Homo sapiens: one gene and its partner. The protein of the gene in region 2 purifies or fractionates together with the protein of the main gene of each other region. This does not show direct contact. Each region holds a gene or a part of one and is shown on either strand. Other genes may lie near its edges. The genes, in order: NUP205 and TTBK1.

Region 1 (3,814 bases), on a different chromosome or scaffold from region 2:
AGCCACCATGCCCAGCTAATTTTTTTGTGTGTGTTTAGTAGAGACAGGGTTTCACCATGTTGGCCATGCTGGTCTTGAACTCCTGACCTTGTGATCTGCCCACCTCGGCCTCCCAAAGTGCTGGATTACAGGCATGAGTCACCACGCCCGGCCTGTTTTTTTTTTAAATAGAGACAGGGTTTTGCCATGTGACCCAGGCTGGTCTTGAACTCCTGCACTTAAGCTCCTTGAACCTTGCTTGGGAGGCCTACCTCAGCCTCTCAAAGTGCTAGGATTACAGGTGCGAGCCACCTTGCCTGGCCCTTTGATGCTATGTTGATATTAATGACGAACTAAGTAGGCCAGTGAACCTGTTTTTTTATTGTTGAGTTTTTTTGTTTGTTTGTTTTTTGAGATGGAGTCTCACTCTGTCTTCCAGACTGGAGTGCAGTGGTGCGCTCTTGGCTCACTGCAACCTCTGCCTCCAGGTTCAAGCGATTCTCCCACCTCAGCCTCCTGAGTAGCTGGGATTACAGGTGCACGCCACCATGCCTGGCTACTTTTTAAAAATTTTTTGTAGAGACAGGGTTTTGACATTTTGGCCAGGCTGGTCTCGAACTCCTGACCTCAAGTGATCTGCCCGCCTTGGCCTCCCAAAGTACTGGCATTACAAGTGTGAGCCACTGCAGCCGGCCTATTGTAGAGTTTTGATCTTTAATTGGATGCCTACCATTATTGGGGGAAAAATTGGATTTTTCTCTACCATTCACTGAGCTTATTACACTAAATATGTATAGTACAAGGAAATTTATTGGTTTTTCAGAGGTCCTACTGTATATTAATATTTAAAATGAGGGAGAGAAAATTAACTTTTGTCAGCACTTTATCAGATTTCTGAAATGTCTGTGGTAAGGTATATTTCAGATTTGCATAGGAGTCATCATTAATACCTTCCCTTTATACCATGTGCCATTTGATGACCAATTCTGAGTCCTTTCTGTTACTAACAGACCTTTTCTTCCTCCTGTACTGCCCTCATCCTAGTTTAGGTTCCATTTTCTTATTTTTTTTTTTTTGAGATGGAGTTTCGCTATTGTTGCCCAGGCTGGAGTGCAATGGTGTGATCTCGGCTCACTGCAACCGCCACTCCCAGGGTTCAAGCTATTCTCCTGCCTCAGCCTCCCGAGTAGCTGGGATTACAGGCACCTGCCACCATGCCTGGCTAATTTTGTATTTTTAGTAGAGATGGGGTTTCTCTATGTTGATCAGGCTGGTCTCGAACTCCCGACCTAAGGTGATCTGCCCACCTTGGCCTCCCGGTTCCATTTTCTTATAAGTGGCTTACTTACCTCTTATCCTTGTTTCCTGACACTGCCTGTTCTAGTCCATCAACCACACTAGAACACCATTTTCCTACAATGCCAGTTTCATTTTGTCATCTGCTACTGGAAACTTTGCCATTTACTAATAGGAAAAATTCCATCATGGCCCTGGAATCCAAGGCTGAAACCTACTCTATCCTTTGCAGTTAGAGAGAGGGCCAAGAAAATGATCCTGAGGGAAGTCATCTAGTCACCAGGATCTAGGTCCTCATTTTGGCAGGCAGAGAAATCTGATTTTTTTCAGTGTATCCAGAGTTGATTAGGTCCCATTCATTGATTATTCTCTAATCAAATTCAGAAAAGACAGATACATAAACCAGTATGCCAGTTATTGCTCTTTTTTATTTTATTTGTTTATTTATTTGTTTTTTGAGACAGAGGCTTGCTGTGTTGCCCAGGCTGGATGGCAGTGGTGTGATCTCGGCTCACTGCAACCTCTGCCTCCCAGATTCAAGAGATTCTTGTGCCTCAACCCTCCTTGTAGTTGGATTTACAGGTGTGCATCATTGCACCTGGCTAATTTTTGTATTTCTAGTAGAGACGGAGTTTCATCATGTTGGCCAGACTGGTCTTGAACTCCTAGCCTTGGCCTCCCGAAGTGCTGGGGTTACACGGATGAGCCACCACCCCTGTCTGCCAGTTATTGCTCTTTAATGGGAAGTATGTCTGCATAGGTACTCATGTTGCCTTGTCAACACATCCTTCATGCTAGAAATTTATATGTCGAGCTATATTTTTAATCAGAAGATTGGAAAGTGTGGGACTAAAGCAGGAGAAGCAAAGCAGGGAATTGGATGATCTGTCTATGTAAGGAAGATCTAGACATGCAGATTCCTCACATCCCCACATCAAAGACCTGACGCTTTGCATCCTTCCCTAATCTTCAGATTAGTTTAGGCTCTTTCTTTCATGTACTCTCATAGCCCGTTGTACTTCATCATATCTTTTATTATACTGATATCTTTGGAATTATTTGTTTTTTCGTTTTGTTTTGTTTTTTGAGACGGAGTCTTGCTCTGTTGCCCAGGCTGAAGCGCAGTGGCGCAATCTCGGCTCACTGCAACCTCTGCCTCCCAGGTTCAAGCAATTCTTCTGCCTCAGCCTCCCGAGTAGCTGGGACTACAGGTGCGCACCACCATGCCTGGCTAATTTTTGTATTTTTAGTAGAGATGGGGTTTCACCATATTGGCCAGGTGGCTGGTCTCGAACTCCTGACCTCGTGATCGGCCCACCTCGGCTTCCCAAAGTGCTGAGATTACAGGTGTGAGCCACTGCACCCGGCCTGGAATTCTTTGTTTAATGTCTGTCAGTCTTATCAATTTGTAAGTTCCATGAGGCTTGGGATTCTGTCTGTCTTGCTCAGTCTATGTGTGTATATATATATATATATATATATATATATATATATATATATATATATATATATGTATATATGGTCCCTCAGTAAATATTTGATAGTGAATGAAAGTATGAATAAATAATCCATCTCCACTGGTTTAGTCCGTCCTCTCCCTGCACATCTCCCTTTAAAAAATTTTTTTTTCAGGCTGGGTGCAGTGGCTCATGCCTTTCATCCCAGCACTTGGGAAGGCCAAGGTGGGCAGGGTAGATTGCTTGAGTCCAGGAGTCTGAGACAAGCCTGGACAACATGGTGAAACCCTGTCTATACCAAAAAAAAAAAAAAAAAAAAAAGCAAACAAACAGAAATTAGGTGGGTGTGGTTGCATACCTGTAGTCCCAGCTATTCAGGAGGCTGAGGGGGGCAGTATCTCTTGACCCCAGGAAGTTGAGGCTACAGTGAGCTGAGATGGCACCACTGTACTCCAGCCTGGGTGACAAAGTGAGACCCTGTCTCAAAAAAAAAATGTTTTTAAATTACATTGCGTCATCTGACGTTGTTCATTGAGTTATAATGTATTTAATTACATTACAGTTATCTTTCATGTTGTTCTTATATCCTGGTAACTTTATTTGGATTTGGGTTTTCTCAACAGTTTACCCTGTTTACAGTCTTTAATGTTTAGGCTATAGTTAGTTCTAAGTTTCATCTGTTGAGTAATTGGTTTTGACCAGTTTTTCCTTCAGAGTCTAAACACATATGAGTACCTTATCTGCTTATTTCCAAACAGAAACCTTTGGCTTTAGAGTCATATTTTTTAAATGGTGAGTCTAAAATCAGTTTAGTAGGGGCCGGGCGCCGTGGCTCATGCCAGTAATCCCAGCACTTTGGGAGGCCGAGGTGGGCAGATTGCTTGAGGCCAGGAGTTCAAGACCAGCCTGGCCAAATGGTGAAGCCCCATCTCTAATAAAAATACAAAAATTAGACGGGCGTGGTGGCACGCCTGTAATCCCAGCTACTCAGGAAGCTGAGGCAGGAGAATCACTTGAACTCAGGAGGTGAAAGTTGCAGTGAGCGGAGATTGTGCCACTGCACTCCAGCCTGGGTGACAGAG
Region 2 (3,814 bases):
CAGAGTGGATGCCAGAAAGGATACCCCTCCTATCCCCAGGACTGGGTCTTTGGAAGAGACCCCTTTTCTGGTGCAGAGAAGGCCCCAGTCCTACTGTGGAGTGAAGTCCCACTCAGAGGCCAAGGGAAGATGGAAACATCTCTCAGGGGCCTCCCCACCTGATGTTGTCCCACCCACCACCAGCACAGATGGGGACCGGGCCCTGGCCCTTGTTGTCCACCCACCATCCGAGGTCAACAGACCATTCTCCCACCCTCCCATCTTCACCTCCTAAAGGCTCACCTAGCTTCTCAATGCTCCTTTTCCCCAACTAGGTTCCCGCTGGTCCCCTCCCCTCTGTGACTTCAGATCCTTCAGCCCTAACCCCCAAAACTTGCCCTGCTCTCTCTTCCAGCAATTCCCAGGCCCCCTCCCCCAAAGCTGAAGAGAGCCTACCTCAGCTGCACTTGAAGTGTCTATAATTAGTCTCTAGGAGAAGAGATTCTGGAAGCACACACACCCACCAACCAACTCGCCCCTCACCCTTCCTGGGCCCAGGCGCCCCACCTGTCCCTCCTGCAGCCTGCACTCACCCAATTACGTTTCCTGGCATGAGCCGGGACCTCTCTGGATCCCCCACTGGTTCTCCCAGGCCCTGTCTCTGGCCCCAACTGAGTCTGACCCCAGGCCCAAGTATAACCCTCTCAGCACTTCCCAGGGTCTGCCCACCTCCGCCACACATCTAACTTTTCCTCCAGACCAGCCACGTGAAGGCGGAGAGGGCCTTGGGCCCCAACCATGCCCCTGGCCCCAGACCCACCTCCTCTCAGGTAGCTCCACTCGCCCGTCCGCCGTGGACAGCCTTTCTGACTCAGGGCTGTTCACCCTCCGGTAGCGCAGAGAACGGACTGGGGTTGTGGGGGAGTCTGGGGGGGCACGCACTGGGGAGCTGGGGACCCCCATGCCTCGGCTCTGTTCCTCCTCCACACAGGGGCTCTGCAGGAGAGGGGAGTGCCATGAGCTGGGGCTGATGAGGCGGCTGTGGGCGGATGGTCTCCTCAGGGTGAAGGAGACAGAGGATGATGATGATGGAAGACACAGCGAGGCTAGTGCGGGGAGGGACCGGGAAACAGAGGCAGGGCAAGCAGGCAGATGGCCGGGGACAGGGTGCTTAGGAGGAACAGGGCAGGGGCACAAGGCTGGGAATCGGGGGTGAGAGAAAAGGCCACCCACGCCCTTCGCCCTGGCGGCAGTTACTTTGCCGATGTTGATCCGGAGTTTGTTCCGGTTGACATCTGTCTCCTCCCAGACTTCAGCCTCAGGACCCCCGGGGTGGGGGACAAGGTGGGGACTGGGGCCCAGCCCCTCAGAGGGCCTCCCGGGCAGAATTGGGGGTGCATTCTCCTGGTCACTCAGGTGCTCTCCCTGTAGCACATCCTCGGTGTTCTCCCGGAGCAGGTCCCCAGGCACTGGCGTCACATTGACCACCCTGGAGAGGGCAGGAGGGAGCCATGGGCAAGGCTGGCAGGGGTGCCCTCTCCTTCCATGGCCCTCTCCTACCAGCACAGACCTGGAGACCACCCCCAGGAGCGGGCACAGAGGCAGTCCCGTCAGGGGTGAGAGTGTCCCTAGGCCCATCACCATTGCTGGCCCACAAAGCCTCTGAGACCAGACGACCCTCAAGTTGGCAGGGGCCACAAGGAGATGTAGCCATCTAGCTCTGTTGACTTAGTGGATCCTGCTGTCGTTCAAGGACCTGCCAGATTTCCATTGGCGTTCACTGTCTGGCTTCCTTTAGACCCAGGAATGGGTCTAAAAAGGAGAATCACTTTGGAGATCCTTTTAAATTTAGTTTTCTTTTATTATTATTTTGCAGTCTGGGAGCATAGATTGAAGTTGCCCTGAATATACACTTAAATTTTTTTTTTATTTAATCTTCTTTGATGATTAAACTTTCGAGTTCTTTAAGCAATGTCTGTATGGAACTGGGCACTGTAATGTGCTACCAACTCCTGTTAAGTCTCCTTCCTAAATGTGTCCCCTGAAGCCCCTGCCCACCTCTCTCCTTGGCTTGCTCCTGGGGCTGGGTGGAGAGCCCCTTCTAACTCCAGCTCCTCCCTCGACCACCTCTGTCTTTGTGCCTGTCACATGGTTCTGAAATTGCTGACCCATCGATTTCAAACATCCCAGACTCAGCTGAGAGTGCTTTGGGGGCAGGAGCTGTAACTTTCAGGTGTATGGCCTCAGGACATGGCTGTTAAATTCATGCATATGAATGATAAGAAACAGATAAACTGTGGGGCTCAGGTAATTTCGCTTAGGGTTCCCTGCTCCCCCAGGGACCCACTAAGGTTAAAAACTCCAAATGAGGAAGATGCCCACTCTATGCTCAGATTGAGGGTGGAGATGTGGCAGAGTTTCCCAAAGTCCCAGAACTCCACTAAGGATAGGAAAGATAGCCAAGTGTGTCCAGATAGGAAGAGAGGAGAGGAGAGGACCGCCTGCCCTCTTAGGTAACAGCTCCAGGCAGGGGCTGGTGGCTCGCCTTCCTGAGACTCACCCAAACATGGCTGCCGTCTGCCGGGTGTTCTGCTGGGGCGGGGTAGAGGTGCTCGTGGACAGGAGGGCATCGGTGCCTGCCTTCTCCCAGTCAAAGGCCTCATTCTCGGCAATGCCCCTCTCCTTCATGCTGTTCTCAAACACTGACATGATCAACTGCAGGGGGTGAGGGTGATGGGAGGACAGAGAGGTGATCCGGGGGCTAGCCAGGAGGAAGGGGCAGTTGCTGGGATCATAGGAGGAAGACAGGGACTTTCCAGGACAGGAATGGGCCTGGAGGGGGCATTGGAAGGAGAACGGCACATTGATTTTAAATGAAAACATGCACATGATATGCAAATCAACATGCAAATTATCATCTTGGATTAAGCCCCACTGACTGGACATGAACCCTCTGAGATCTGTCCCCTGGTTACCATCTTCAAACCTCCTCTGCCATTTCCACCATGTCAGCAACCCTAAACCACTGGGAGTTTCCAAACCCATGCATGGGGTGCTGCCTCTGCACAGACTGCCCCTCTGCTGGGGCGCCCCTCCCACTCATCCTCTCCTCTCTGCAGCTTCCCTTCTCTTCACCGTAAATTCTCTCCACCATACAGCTGCCCTACAGGGCACAGTGCATCAGTTTGAATTGTCCACATGCCTATCTGTCAACTCTGCATCCCTAGCAGCCAGCACAGGGCCCCAGCCTGGGGGGTGCTCGCAGCTGTGTGGCTTTGGGGATCCCATGAGGCTAAGCCAAGATCAGGGGGCGTCTCTGCCAGGCCCTGGGTTCAGGAGGTGGCAGACAGCTATAGACCCTCTGAGGTCCCCAGAACACTCCACTTCTGGCTTGGCTGTCTCCAGAGCACAGGGCAGTTTCTCTCTGCTGAGAGGACCGGCTTAATTGAGTGCATCCTGTGTGCCTCAGGCTGTCTCTACTCCTACAGTATGCAGCATCGTGCCTGGCGTGTAGTGGATCCCAGGCAGAACACTGCTGATGTTTCCCCCATTCTCTGATCAGGGTCAGTGGGTCCCATGGGGTGTGGTGATGGACGCTTGGAAAGAGCCCTGGACTCGGAGTCAGAAGATGTGCCTGAGCCCAGCCCTGCTCCTAACCACTATATTGGGCCTCAGTTCCCTCATCTATGAAATGGGCATGATCATCCCACTTGCCTCCCGCAGAGTTTTCATGTAAAGTACTTAAAAGCATTTGGCTTCATTAATTGTTTTTGTTTATTTGTTTGTTTGAGATGGAGTCTTGCTCTGTCACCCAGGCGGGAGTGCTGTGGTTTAA

The links.
Region 1: the proteins of TTBK1 (region 2) and NUP205 purify together in Homo sapiens (affinity purification with mass spectrometry, with the first as the bait; one large-scale study listed by BioGRID). This does not show direct contact.

What each region holds. Positions count from the first base shown.
Region 1 is NC_000007.14:135,564,395-135,568,208, forward strand, and holds part of NUP205 (nuclear pore complex protein Nup205), read left to right. Parts: intron 1-3,814. UniProt on the Homo sapiens protein: Plays a role in the nuclear pore complex (NPC) assembly and/or maintenance. May anchor NUP62 and other nucleoporins, but not NUP153 and TPR, to the NPC.
Region 2 is NC_000006.12:43,256,692-43,260,505, reverse strand, and holds part of TTBK1 (tau-tubulin kinase 1), read right to left. Parts: intron 2,695-3,814; coding exon 2,540-2,694; intron 1,469-2,539; coding exon 1,237-1,468; coding exon of another isoform or gene 976-1,236; coding exon 800-975; intron 1-799. UniProt on the Homo sapiens protein: Serine/threonine kinase which is able to phosphorylate TAU on serine, threonine and tyrosine residues. Induces aggregation of TAU.